2 separate regions of the Homo sapiens genome follow, and region 2 is reported to be linked to region 1. Evidence: microRNA targets listed by miRTarBase, many of them from high-throughput screens and not tested one by one. Region 1 holds a microRNA gene; the other region holds the end of a gene's coding sequence.

What was found. Region 1 holds the annotated microRNA hsa-miR-6840-3p (GCCCAGGACUUUGUGCGGGGUG, at 4,143-4,164, shown strand). A microRNA usually pairs through its seed, bases 2 to 8, with sites in the 3' UTR of a target mRNA and lowers its output. Matches are read on the target gene's strand: a 7mer-m8 pairs with bases 2 to 8, a 7mer-A1 pairs with bases 2 to 7 and ends in A, and an 8mer does both.
Region 2: the mRNA of TIMM8A is a reported target of hsa-miR-6840-3p. The part of its 3' UTR that is shown has no 7-base or 8-base seed match.

Annotation. Positions count from the first base shown.
Region 1 is chr7:100,352,554-100,359,669 of GRCh38, forward strand. MIR6840 (microRNA 6840) reads left to right here and starts at 4,098; the gene lies at 4,098-4,168. It overlaps PILRB (paired immunoglobin like type 2 receptor beta), which reads left to right and starts at 5,564. Exons shown (of 4, transcript NM_178238.4): 1 at 5,564-5,813; 2 at 6,137-6,526; 3 at 6,784-6,984. The coding sequence starts at 5,750. It overlaps STAG3L5P-PVRIG2P-PILRB (STAG3L5P-PVRIG2P-PILRB readthrough), which reads left to right. Exons shown (of 17, transcript NR_036570.1): 8 at 11-361; 9 at 444-570; 10 at 657-717; 11 at 820-930; 12 at 2,590-2,687; 13 at 4,197-4,330; 14 at 5,667-5,813; 15 at 6,346-6,526; 16 at 6,784-6,984. It also overlaps the pseudogene PVRIG2P.
Region 2 is chrX:101,340,270-101,347,381 of GRCh38, forward strand. TIMM8A (translocase of inner mitochondrial membrane 8A) reads right to left here. Exons shown (of 2, transcript NM_004085.4): 2 at 5,392-6,391. The coding sequence ends at 6,230. It also overlaps the pseudogene RPL21P132. Among named protein-coding and RNA genes, the nearest start is that of TIMM8A, 4.9 kb to the right of the region's middle.

The DNA.
Region 1 (7,116 bases):
TGTTCCACAGGGACCCCGGAGGTGTGAGTACAAGTTCGGATGGAGGCCACCGAGCTCTCGTCCTTCACCATCCGTTGTGGGTTCCTGGAGTCTGGCTCCATCTCCCTGGTGACTGTGAGCAGGGGGGGCCCCGATGGTGCTGGGGGGACCACGCTGGCTGTGTTGCACCCGGAACTTGGCATCCAGCAATGGGCCCCTGCTCGCCAGGCCCGCTGGGAAACCCAGAGCAGCATCTCTCTCATCCTGGAAGGCTCTGGGGCCAGCAGCCCCTGCGCCAACACCACCTTCTGCTGCAAGTTTGCGTCCTTCCCTGAGGGCTCCTGGGAGGCCTGTGGGAGCCTCCCGCCCAGCTCAGACCCAGGTGGGGCCGGGGTGAGGGGTCCAGGAGGGCAGGGAGGGGCTCGGGAACTGGCCATCCATCTGATTCTTGCCTCTGTGCCCAGGGCTCTCTGTCCCGCCGACTCCTGCCCCCATTCTGCGGGCAGACCTGGCCGGGATCTTGGGGGTCTCAGGAGTCCTTCTCTTTGACTGTGGCTACCTCCTTCATCTGCTGTGCCGACAGAAGCACCGGTGAGACCTGGGCCCTGTCCACGTCCCCCTGACACTGGGCTGGCCACATGCCGTGCAGAGCTCTGACCATCCTTGCTCTCTCCCAGCCCTGCCCCTAGGCTCCAGCCATCCCACACCAGCTCCTAGGCACTGAGAGCACGAGCATGGGTGAGGAGGGGGGCTGCTTTGGGGATGAGGTGGCAGGGGTAGGGGGGGCCAGGGCTGGGCCCAAGCTGTACAGACTCACTTGATCCTCCTTCCCCCGCGCAGGCACCCAGCCAGGCCTCCCAGGCTGCTCTCCACGTCCCTTATGCCACTATCAACACCAGCTGCTGCCCAGCTACTTTGGACACAGCTCACCCCCGACAGGGGGCCGTCCTGGTGGGCATCACTCCCCACCCACACCGCACACTGGCCCCAGGGCCCTGCTGCCTGGGCCTCCACATCCATCCCTGCACATGGCAGCTTTGTCTCTGTTGAGAATGGACTCTACGCTTAGGCTGGGCAGAGGCCTCCCTGCACTGGTCCTGGCCTCACTCTTTTCCCTGACCCTTGGGGCCCAGGGCCATGGAGGGACCCTTAGGAGTTCAATGAGAGAGACCATGAGGCCACTGGGCTTTCCCCTTCCCAGGCCTCCTGGGTGCCACCCCCTTACGTTATTCTTGGGCCTCTAATAAGTGTCCCACAGGTGCCTGGCCAGGCCCACCTGCTGCAGATGTGGTCTGTGTGTGTGCATGTGTGGGTGTGTGTGGGCACAGGTGTGAGTGTGTGAGCAACAGTACCCCATTCCAGTCGTTTCCTGCTGTGACTAAGTCAGCAACACAGTTCCTCTGACATGGGCCTTGGCTGTGCTTCTTTGGGGGTGAAGAGATTGGGGAGGAAGTCTCCACCCCTGGGAGGCAGAAGCCAGGTGAGAACCAGAGTGGGTTGGGGCCTCCTTGCAGGGCTGGGTTTGGCCCAGGGAGAGGGCAGTGTCCCAGTCTTAGAGATCTGTCCTGGCTTCTTGGGGTGGCGGGGGGTTGGGGGAGCTTCCTGAGGGACACCTGTGGCTTCCTAGACAGAATTGGGGGATCCCAGCGGGATGGTCCCTGCTGCAATCCCACCATGTCCTAGGACAGCAGCAAGGGTTCCTGGGGCTTCAGCCTGAGAAAAGTCCCTGTGATTTGACCTGGCGTCCCTCTGCCGGGCTCCCTGCTGTGGCCTGGGCTAGAGTCCTGATGCCCTCCTTCCACAGCTGGCATCAGGCAGGGCTGGAAAGTAGGAGGACTTGCCTGAAATCTGGCTGGATTTCAGAGCCTTGCTCTGTCACCCAGGCTGGAGTGCATTGGCACGATCTTGGCTTACTTCAACCTCCACCTCCCGGGTTCTAGTGATTCTCCTGCGTCAGCCTCCCGAGTAGCTGGGACTACGGATGTGCACCATCGTGTCCGCTAATTTTTGTATTTTTTTTTTTTTTTTCAGTAGAGACGGGTTTCACCATGTTTGGCTGGGCTGGTCTCGAACTCCTGACCTCAGGTGATCCACCCACCTTGGCCTCCCAAAGTGCTGAGATTACAGACTTGAGCCACGGTGCCCCGCCTGAATAGGAGCTTCTTAATCAAAATTTCAGCATGGCTCTGGGTCAAAATTGACCAGCTGATTTAATAAGTTGATGTAAAAATTTTACAGTCAGCTACCCCTGGGAGGGGGAGTCTCTCCCTAGTCAGTGAGGCACCAGATGCCAGAGCATTGGCAATGTACAAGGGGCTCAGCCCTGTGGCTCATATGTGTAATCCCAGCACACTGAGAGGATGCCTTGAGCCTGGGAGATTGAGGCCAGCCTGGGTAACAGTGACACCACGTCTCTGCAAAAAAGAAAATTAGGGGAGAACTGTGGTGCGTGCCTATAGTCCCACCTACAGGCAGAGCGAGACCATGTCCCCCACTAAAAAGAGGCCAAGAATGCAGGAAATATAGATAATATGGGCCCTGTGATGGGTGGAGGCCAAATAGATCAATACAGAATTGAAGAAGACACAGAGCACTTGTATTTCCCTTCAGGCATAGCGCGCTGGCTAGGACTCCAGTACCGTGAAGGGAGGCAGTGAGAGCAGACATCTGTGCCTCATTCCTGATCTCAAGGGGAAAGCAAGAACAAGGTGGGTGCCAAGGAGGGGCAAGGGGCTGGGGCAGGCATAGACGTGGCTGGTGAGGAAAGGAGGATAGTTGTTGGGGGAAGGTGGGGACATACAAGCAGCAGTTCTCAAAATGGGCAGGGTCCTGGCCCCCTCCCTGCCTCTGCTGAACACTGCATCCCATGCCTCTCCCATGGCCACCTGCTGGGCTAACGGGCTGGATTTAGACTCTGCCCATGTTGGAATCATGCCCTCCTCCAGGGCCGGTGCCTCCCAAAACCCCCCTCTGAGAGAGAGCCACAGCCCCAGGCTTAGCCCCAGGCCCTGTCACTGCTGTTGGGGGAGGGAGGATGAACCATCCGGGAGGCCTCACACCATTCCAGAGCAGAAATCCTGACACAAAAGGAATCTCCCATGGGGGTTCAGCTGGGTCCAGAGCCCGGAAAGTGACATAAACACGCACCTTGCATCTAAGGAGAATGCACGTGGCGGTACCGGGCCTGAGGCCCCTGGGGAGTATGTACCCTCCAGAGCTACCCAGAGGCTGTTGGCTAAAAGTTCTATGTGGCCCCCTCCTTGGGCAGCCTGGTAAGCAGGTGACCTTCTAGCTGGGTCCCATGGGCCACGGGCAAGGCAGGAATGGAACGAAGAGTCAGTCCTCAGTGGCTGGGTGTTGTATCCCATGCCTATAATCCCAGCACTTTGGGAGGCTGAGGTGGGCAGATCACTTGAGGCCAGGAGTTTGAGACCAGCCTGGCCAACATGGTGAAACCCTGTCTCTACTAAAAATATAAAAATTAGCTGGGTGTGGTGGCACACACCTGTAATTCCCAGCTACTTGGAAGGCTGAGGCAGGAGAATTACTTGAACCCAGGAAGCAGAGGTTACCGTGAGCCAAGATCACACCATTGCACTCCAGCCTGGGCAACACAGCGAGAATCCATCTCAAAAAAAAAAAACAAAAAGTCCTCAGGCAGGGTGGGCCACCCTCTTGAGGCCTTGCCCAAACAGCCAGGGGGTCCCTTGTCCTCTTTTCGGCCCACCTTTGCAGGTGGGACCAGTTCAGTCCAAAGCCCCGGTGCCTCAGTTTCCCTGTGGGTTGAACAAGGAGAATGAGGTGTATAGGGCCTGGCTCAGACGGAGGGGTTTCCTGAGCATGGGGAGCCTGTTTCCTCAGACCTGTGAAGGGAAGGAGGGTGGATCGGCCTGACTGGCCCTGGGAAGCACAGAGGAGCCTACTGGGACCAGGGAAGAGACTGACAAGAGAAGGGAGGCCTGTCCCTGCCTGCTTCTGTCTCAAGAAGATTGTTATCACTTCCTCTGGTGAAATCCTGCCTTCCTGTCCCCACGGCCCCTCAGCTGATGCCACCTTACTCTGGAGAGGATGGGCAGAGCCTCCTATGGAGGGAGCCCTGTGGGTCACCAAAGCTCCAGTGACCACCCCCGGGCAAAGACCTGCAGATCCCCTGTTAGAGACGGGCCCAGGACTTTGTGCGGGGTGCCCACTGTTGCTCTGAGCCTTCACTTCCTCAGGGAGGCTTCCTCAGGATCTCGAACCTGCGGAAGGAGGACCAGTCTGTGTACTTCTGCCAAGTCCAGCTGGACATACAGATCAGGGAGGCTGTCGTGGCAGTCCATCAAGGGGACCCACCTCACCATCACCCAGGGTGAGTCCAGCTGCCCTGGCACCAAGGAACCTTCCTGGTTCAGCCATAGGCTCAGGTGTGTGGAGGGAATGACCTGAGGGGCTGTATGAGGGAACAACCTCCTGGGGCTCCCCTATGCCTGAGTTCCTGCAACTCAGAAGTTGAGGCCCAGAGATCCAGGTAGAGGGGGCTCCAGTCCTGGGACTGCCCTGCAAGTCATGTGGCCTGGGACAGGGCTTCTCCAAGCTCTGTCCCCTCCTGTGTAGGGCAGGGAGGTCAGAGGGGACCCTGCAGATCCAGTCTCATGTCTGGGGGTCAAGGGGTGGCCTCGAGAGGGACCAGTCTCTGTGTAGGGGACCGTCAGCCCCCTCACCCCTTGAGCAAGACTGTGGTCCCTGCACCAAGGGAGCAGGCCTGGGGTGGGAAGAGGCCAGCTGGGCTGTGGTGGTGCCTGGGGACTGCATGGGAGCCCCTGCCAGGGAGGGAGAGGGACAGAGGACAAGCTGGGGGCTCTGGTGCTTGGGCTGGGGGCTGAGCGCCTGTGACCTCCACTGGCTTCCTCCTTCTCCTCTCTGAGGACTGAATCTGGGGTGCAGCAGAGCACAGACTCAGGCCCGCCTTTCCTCTCCCTGAAAGAGCCTGCGCTGGCCTTGGACAGAGAAAGGGATGAGAAGTGAGGCTGAGTGCGGTGGGGTCTGCAGGGATCCAGGTGGGAGGGGCCCAGCCAGCCAAGGTGAGGCCCAGCCCCTCAGCAGGAAGATGGGCACTGGGGCCCTTGGGCAGGGCTGACTTGACACTTTTGTGTGACTTGAGCCACTGTGCCCAGCCTGAACACCCTTTCCTGGTAAAACACTCCACAAACCAGGAAGAGAAGGAATGTACTGCAACAAAATAAAGGCCAGTCATGCAAGGCCCATGGCTGAAAGTCTTTCAGTCATTTTAGATGAAAGACTGAAATCTTTGCCTCCAAGATCAGGAACAAGAGAAGGATGCCCGCTCTCACTACTTCTATTCAACACAGGATTTGAAGTCAGGCCGGGCACAGTGGCTCACGCCTGTAATCCCAGCACTTTTGGAGGCTGAGGCGGGCAGATTACTTGAGCCTATGAGTGTGAGACCACCCTGGCCAACATGGCAAAACCCCATCTCTACTAAAAAAAAAAAAAAAAAAAGGATTTGAAGTCCTGGCCGGAGCAATTAGGCAAGGGATAAAAAGGCACCTAAGGCCCTTTTGCAATAAGAAGCCAGATGGATAAAGGAAGTGCTGGTCACCCTGGAGGTGTACTGGTTTGGGGAAGGTCCCCGGCCCCCACAGCCCTCTGGGGAGCCTCACCCTGGCTCTCCCCACTCACCTCAGCCCTCAGGCAGCCCCTCCACAGGGCCCCTCTCCTGCCTGGACAGCTCTGCTGGTCTCCCCGTCCCCTGGAGAAGAACAAGGCCATGGGTCGGCCCCTGCTGCTGCCCCTGCTGCTCCTGCTGCAGCCGCCAGCATTTCTGCAGCCTGGTGAGTACCCAGGACCGCCCAGGTATGGTCTCTGCCCAAACCACAGGAGGGGCCAACCCAAGACAAAGGCAGAACATCTGGGGCAGGGGCCAGGCTCCCACCTCCAGCAAACAAGGGCGGGTCCCATAGGGGTGGGTGCCGCCATCTCTTCCCCCTCCACCCTCCCCCATGCCTGAAGAGTGGGAGACCCAGGCCAGAGGTCAGTCCAGCCACCTGTCACACGACTGCCTGTGGGTGAAGGTGTGGGAGGGTCTGGGGTCACCCTCTTTGTGTCCTGAGGTGGTTTCAAGGTCTCTCCCCCACTCACTCCCTCCTTCCTCTAGGTGGCTCCACAGGATCTGGTCCAAGCTACCTTTATGGGGTCACTCAACCAAAACACCTCTCAGCCTCCATGGGTGGCTCTGTGGAAATCCCCTTCTCCTTCTATTACCCCTGGGAGTTAGCCATAGTTCCCAACGTGAGAATATCCTGGAGACGGGGCCACTTCCACGGGCAGTCCTTCTACAGCACAAGGCCGCCTTCCATTCACAAGGATTATGTGAACCGGCTCTTTCTGAACTGGACAGAGGGTCAGGAGAGCGGCTTCCTCAGGATCTCAAACCTGCGGAAGGAGGACCAGTCTGTGTATTTCTGCCGAGTCGAGCTGGACACCCGGAGATCAGGGAGGCAGCAGTTGCAGTCCATCAAGGGGACCAAACTCACCATCACCCAGGGTGAGTCCAGCTGCCCTGACACCTGCCTTGCCCACCGCAGTGAGGGTTTTGGTGACCACTGATGTCTTCACATTTAAACCCAGTGGTCTGGATTGAGAGCTGTTAGCATTTCACCTTGCTACCCCTTCCATGTCTGGGCTTCTGAGAGCAGCTTGCTCATCCTGAATGTCCCCAATCTAGAAAGCAGCACACCATGCCTTTCATCCAGACGCCCCACACCCCCAGAAGAGGGTCTGCTCATTCCTCATCTCTTCCAGCTGTCACAACCACCACCACCTGGAGGCCCAGCAGCACAACCACCATAGCCGGCCTCAGGGTCACAGAAAGCAAAGGGCACTCAGAATCATGGCACCTAAGTCTGGACACTGCCATCAGGGTTGCATTGGCTGTCGCTGTGCTCAAAACTGTCATTTTGGGACTGCTGTGCCTCCTCCTCCTGTGGTGGAGGAGAAGGAAAGGTAAGTGCCCAGAACGCACTGTCTCCTCAAGCTTCCCAGCTGGGGGTTTCTCTGAGCCCACCTGCAGCTAAGGGACTTCAGAAATATGCAGACCCTGCTGGCTCCCCTCAAGCCCACCAAGGCCGACTCTGG
Region 2 (7,112 bases), not on the chromosome of region 1:
ATAAGAAAGACGATATTATTAGCCGGGCGTGGTGGTGCGTGCCTGTAGTCCCAGCTACTCAGGAGGCTGAGGCAGGAGAATCACTGGAACCTGGGAGGTGGAATTTGCAGTGAGCCGAGATCTCACTACTGCACTCCAGCCTGGACAACAGAGTGAGACTCTGTCTCAAAAAAAAAAAATATATATATATATATATATATCTTTTCTATATATATAGAGAGAAAAATATGTGTTCATTATGGACTATATATATTTCTATATCTATTTATATATATATTCTATATATAGAGAAAAAATATATATATACACACACATATAGAGACATCGAGGGAATGTGTACTATTCAAAAAGGAATGTCCCATAAGTGTTACCATGGCAAAACTGTGTCTACACTGTTAACCAGCATGCTGTTGGCATTGTTGTAAACAAAGAAGCTAAGGGCAAGATTCTTGCCAAGAGAATTAATGTGCGGATTGAGTACATTAAGCACTCTAAGAGCCAAGATAGCTTCCTGAAACGCATGAGGGAAAATGATCAGAAAAAGGAAGCCAAAAAGAGAGGTACCTGGGTTCAACTCAAGTGCCAGGCTGCTCCACCCAGAGAAGTGTACTTTGTGAGAACCAATGGAAAGGAGTCTGGGCTGCTGGAACCTATCCCCTATGAATTCAAGCATAATAGGTGCAAAAACATAAAAGACCTCTGGACTGTAAAAATGTTTCTCTTCATTAAGTAGAAGTGTGCTGTCCCCTCCCCCTAATAAAAATTAAAACAAATTTTAAAAGTGTCCTAATTCATTGTGTAATGTCTTTATTATTCAAATTTAATGTATTTCTTGCTGAAAGATGTGAGGTGGCTTATTGTGCAACAAATTACTCAATTGGCTAGAAATGGCCAGATATTATTTATGAAATATTTGTACTTGTTTGAAGATAGTCAGGCCAGGCATGGTGGCTCATGCCTGTAATCCCAGTTACTCGGGAGGCTGAGGCAGGAGAATCGCATGAACCCGGGAGACAGAGGTTGCAGTGAGCCAAGATCACGCCATTGCACTCCAGCCTGGGCAACAAGAGCAAAACTCCGTCTCAAAAAAAAAAAAAGAAAAAAAGTCCATTTAAATCATCATGGAAGAAATAAAATAATTTACAAAAGTTAAAAAAAGAAAAAAGAATCTATTTGAGACTAGGGGATATCTGAAAGTACTGTAGTTGAAATATAAGTTTTTTATTCCTAAAAGTGGTTTCTATCACACATCCCCACTTTTTAGTACAGAGTTTATAGTGCTGAAATGGAGAGAAATTTTGTTATTTTTTAAAATAATATGTATTTTTCTGAATAGGTAATTCATTCACATGATTCAAAACTCAAAAGGCATAAAGAAAAGATAAATGGCAAAAAGTCTCCCACCCCTACTCCCCAACCACCCAGTTCTTTTCCCCAGAGGCAATCAATATTAACAATATCCTTCAAGAGTTAATTAATGCTTATTCAAGCAAATATGCATACATATATTTTAATCCCCCCCCCTTTTTACACAAATGGTAGTCTTTAATCTTGCTTTTTAACTTTAACAATATGTATTGGAGCTCATTCCATAACAATTTATAAAGAAGTTTGTGATGGTTAATAATGAGTGTCAACCTGATTGGATTGAAGGATACAAAGTATTGATCCTGGGTGTGTCTGTGAGGGTGTTGAGTCAGTGGGCTGCTATTCCTTGAAAATGGCAAGTGAGTCATGGCAGTACTCGGGAAAAGTACATACTACATGGAAATGACTGCACTCCAGCCTTGGAAACAGAGCGAGATCTCATCTTAAAAAAAAAAAAAGGTATTACAATGGGGAAAAATTGGTTTTTAAGAAAAGGACCATCGATTGTTTTCCATTATTCCATGTAAAGACTATTTTACATGGAGTTCATTGATTTGTTAACTTTAGAATTCAAATTCCTTATGGAGTTTATTGTAAATAAAGAGCAAGTTTTTGCTTGATTTCCTTCTGTTATCCCTAATACATAGACTCACTTTCAGAGTGTGCTTGGTAAAACCTGGAAGCTTGAAGATGAGCCTTAGGCATCACTGGCAGTGCAGGTGGGTGACAACACAACAGTAGGAAGGCTTCCAGATACTAACCACCAGAGTAGCTTGGCTTTTCTGCTTTACATAACAGGCTTCTAAGTAAGATTTCATTTCATGAAAAGGGTCTGCTAATCCAATTCTTTTGTTTTACAACTGAGTTTTGAATTTTCTACCTTGAATATTTGAAATGAGGACTTTGAATGTCATCAGGGCTAACAGTACCACCTATCAAAGTTCTGAAACTGCATTTCTCAGATTGACAAAACAAACAAAAGCCCAAATTGTTGCCTTGGGGCTTATTAATCTCAGACAGGGGATTTGTTACACCTTTTCTTTTCCATTGTCTTTGTGCCCAGTAGTGTCAAAACACATAATTGGTGCTCAAGTTTACTGTATGAATCTGACAGACCTTTCTCATGACATATATTCGCTGAGCAAGCAATACTGTAAAGCTAAGACATTTAAATTTGTGTGTACAAGTAATGAGAACACTTTAATACTAAATAAGGTGGGGCGCAGTGGCTCACGCCTATAATCCCAGCACTTTGGGAGGCCGAGGCAGGTGGATCACGAGGTCAGGAGATCAAGACCATCCTGGCCAACATGGTGAAACCCCGTCTCTACTAAAAATATAAAAATTAGCTGGGTGTGGTGGTGTGTGCCTGTAATCCCAGCTACTCGGGAGGCTAAGGCAGAAGAATCGCTTGAACCCAGGAGGCAGAGATTGCAGTGAGCCGAGATCGTGCCGCTGGCTTGGAGACAGAGTGGGACTCTGTCTCAAAAAAAAAAAAACTAAATAATATAGTAATAAATAACATAATAAATATAATAATAAGGAAAAGACTAAAGAACCGTTCCTATGACTTGAGGTTTTAAGAACACATTTTCTTTTTATTTTTGAGGCAAGGTCTCACTGTCACCCAGGCTGGAGTGCAGTAGCGTGATCATGGGTCACTGCAGCCTCGACCTCCACAGGCTCAGGTGATCCTCTCGCCTCAGCCTCCCATGTATCTGGGACTACAGGTATGTGCCACCATGCTCAGCTAATTTTTGTATTTTTTGTAGAGATGGGGTCTTGGCATGTTGCCTAGGCTGGTCTCAAACTCCTGGGCTCAAGCAATCCTCCCACTTCAGCCTCCCAAAGTACTGAGATTATAGATGTGAGCCACCGTGCCTGGCCTCACATTAAATTTTGTAGGGAAAAAAAAGTCAACGGGGACATATAGTTACAAGGTATATGCATTTTAAAGTCTCATTTTCCTGGATTTCAAAATGCCATTATTCTTACTACTACTGCTACTGTTACAACTTCTTCACCATGTGATGTTGCCCAAAGAGCAGCCAGACCCTCCTAAAATTAAGTTATGTTACATCATTCATCTGTTAAAATCCCTCAAATGGCTCCCCACCTTGCTTAGTAAAAGCCCAAAGTCCTTGCCATGGCCTACAAGGCCCCACATAATCAGTGCACACACACCCGTCACCCTGATCCATTGCATGCGTTTTTCTCCAACCTTATTTCTTTTTTTTTTTTTTTTGAGATGGAGTCTCACTCTCTCACCCAGGCTGGAGCGGCTCACTGCAATCTCTGCCTCCTGGGTTCAAGTGGTTCTCCTGCCTCAGCTTCCCAAGTAGCTGGGATTACAGGCACCTGCCACCACACCTGGCTAATTTTTGTATTTTTTGCAGAGACAGGGTTTCACCATGTTGGCCAGGCTGGTCTTGAACTCCTGACCTCAGGTGATCCATCCATCTCGGCCTCCCAAAGTGCTGGGATTACAGGCATGAGCCCACCGCACCCGGTCTCTCCAACCTTATTTCTTACCATTCTCTTTCACTCACTTTACTCCAGCTATAATGACCTCTTGACTGTTCTCCACGGCATCATGCATGCAGTTCCTACCTTGGGGCCTTCGGACTTACTGTTATTCCTGCCTGAAATGTTCTTGTCTCAGACACCCACAAGGTTTTGTGGGGTTTTTTTGTTTGTTTGTTTGTTTTGAGACGGAGTCTTGCTCTGTCACCCAGGCTAGAGTGCAGTGGCACAATCTCGGCTCACTGCAAGCTCTGCCTCCCGGTTTCACACCATTCTCCTGCCTCAGCCTCCCAAGTGGCTGGGACTATAGGCGCCTGCCACCACGCCCAGCTCTTTTTTTTTTTGTATTCTTAGCAGAGATGGGGTTTCACCATGTTAGCCAGGATGGTCTTGATCTTCTGACCTCGTGGTCTGCCTGCCTCGGCCTCCCAAAGTGCTGGGATTACAGGCGTGAGCCACCGTGCTCGGCAACACCCACAAGGTTTGGTTGCTTAGTTCATCCAGGTCTCTGTTGGACTGCCACCTTCCCAAGGAGGCCTTCTCAAACCATCTTATATAAAATAATCACACTCCATAAATATTCCCTAACACCCTTACTCTGCTGTTTCTCCATGGCACTTATTACATTGACATATTTATGTGTTTATTGTCTACCTCCCCTAACTAGACCAATAGCTCCTCAAGGGCAGGGACTGTTTCTGTGCACTGCTGAAATCCTGTCACTAAAAACAACGGCACAGAGTATGAACTTAAATGTTTAACTGTGTTTTCATAATGATTTAAAAAAAATTCCAGCTGGGTGCGGTGGCTCACGCCTGTAATCCCAGCACTTTGGGAGGCCAAGGTGGGCAGATCATGAGGTCAGGAGTTTGAGACCAGCCTGACCAACATGGTGAAACCCCGTCTCTACTAAAAGTACAAAAATTAGCCAGGCATGGTGGCGTGCGCCTGTAATCCCAGCTACTCAGGAGGCTGAGGCAGGAGAATCACTTGAACCCGGGAGGTGGAGGTTGCAGTGAGCCGAGATCCCACCGCTGCACTCCAGCCTGGGCGACAGAGCAAGACTCCGTCTCAAAAAAAAAAAAAAAAAAAGTCCTTCTAGCACCTTTATGGGGAAAATCTAAACAGGGACTTGAAGCTTTTAGAGATGTTCATTTCCCCAGATTTCATGGATTTGCACTAGAGGCTCCCAACAAGTAGGTCCATTTTAGGTCTATACTCCAGTCTACAAGGATTTGAAATAAGAGGAGAATCCAGTCAATACAACCTCTACTATACTCACGGACTTGACTGCCAGCACATAACCGCTTCCCTCCCCATCTCATCTCTAGGTTCTCTTTTCTCTCAAAAAGGTCAGGAACCCCTGGAATACTGTGCTGTACCTTACACAGAGCAGGTACCCAGACTGACTGACTACATTTTAACCTTGGAATCAGCCCATGCTAAATCTCTCCGGGTTGCAGATAATAACTGCAATAGGATGCCTTCTCAATCACAGAGTTGAATCTTATATAGCTTTTATTTCAGTGATCAGAAGAATGCAGTAAATGGAATCTACACTAACTAACATTAGGCATGCACCTCTACCTGAAACTGCTGTTAGCTTCTGATTGGCCTAAATCTTTATAACTTATTTAGGCACATCACTGAATTTTTTGTACCCTGATATACAGGGTAAGTTAATTTCTTCCTTGTGGCAGTCTAGTAATAAGAATTATGTTCACTGGCTAGATTCCTTTATAACTAAAGGCCTCTAGACTCTCAGGCTGCCTACCCTACCTTGAGACTTACTTAATATGGATATTTAAGCAAATCATCATATAGGAAAGGGAGATCAAGATAACTGAAGTGTACTGTATAAACACTCTTACAGATATTTTTCTCCAGCATTGACAATCAAACACTAGATAAGGATACCAAATTATTCTTCCCCTACTTCTGCCCTTTCTGATAAACACAAGGATCTCCCCTGAAATCAGAAATGACTCCACACAAATGAGAGATTTTTACGTATGTGGTCCCACTATCAAAATTATAGGAAGCAGTTAATGGGGCTTTGAGAAAAGCATAGTCCCATGTACAGTAATATGCATCTAAATAGAGTTTTCTTTCGCCTGTCAATTATTTTCACAAGATTAGCATTAAAAAATACAAGCAAACATATGACCCTTAAGCTTCACACACAAAAAATTGGTCTTTGTTCATTCTCAGATGACAGGATGTCCCAAGAGTAACAAAAGATGGGAGCCAATCCTCTCATAGCTGTTTCTTCAATCATCCCATCAACAGCTCTTCATTTCTTGAACTACCTTCCTTTTCCAAAGAGGTAATGCTGAGATCAGTCAGAAAGGCTTTCTGAGAAAACTGGCTTGGATTTCTGGGTCTGTTCCAGTCGATTCAAGATGAACTGGCTTGTATCAATGAAGCGCTCAACGCAGTTCACAAAACAGGCCTCAGCCCGACTGTCCAACTTTGGCCCAGGCTTGTCCATGCACTTCTCCTGCTCAGGACAAGATACAGAATCACAAAGGGAACTTGGAAAGAAAAAGACGGTTGGGGGCAGGGGTCCCTTTTTGTTGCTTAGAGAAAAAAAAACTTTACCTAAAAATAATATCTGATATGTTACTGATAGTTCACATTTGGCAGCTGACCAAGTATATAGCAATGTTCTCTAGCCTTACATTAAATTCTTACAACAATACTATGGAATAGATACTATTATAAATCCTCATTTTACAAAGAGGAAAACTGTGGCACAGAGATACTTTACCCAAAATCATAGGGCCAGAAAATGGCAGAGCTGGGATATTCCAGAGCAAGAAAATGGCAAAATATAAGTGAAGTAACCTTTCAATGAATTTGGTTTTAACTCCACAATGCTGTTTGAACTAAATGCCTTTAAGTTAACTACAGAATAAAAGGGTGAAAGGATAAATCATTTCAGCAAGGTACCCTAAAACCTACCAAAGAAGAAAAAAAATATGACTTGAGATTCTATAACCTTGTCTACTTAAGCTAGAGATTCTTGAATCCTGTCATGATGAATGGAAAATTGAATGCATTTTCCTAAGGGGTTCATCATAGCTTACAGTTTTTTTTCCTTTCTTTTCTTTTCTTTTTTTTTTTTGAGACAGAGTCTGGCTCTGTCACCCAGGCTGGAGTGCAGTGGCATGATCTCACTGTAACCTCCGCCAGGTTCAAGCCATTCTCGTGCCTCAGCT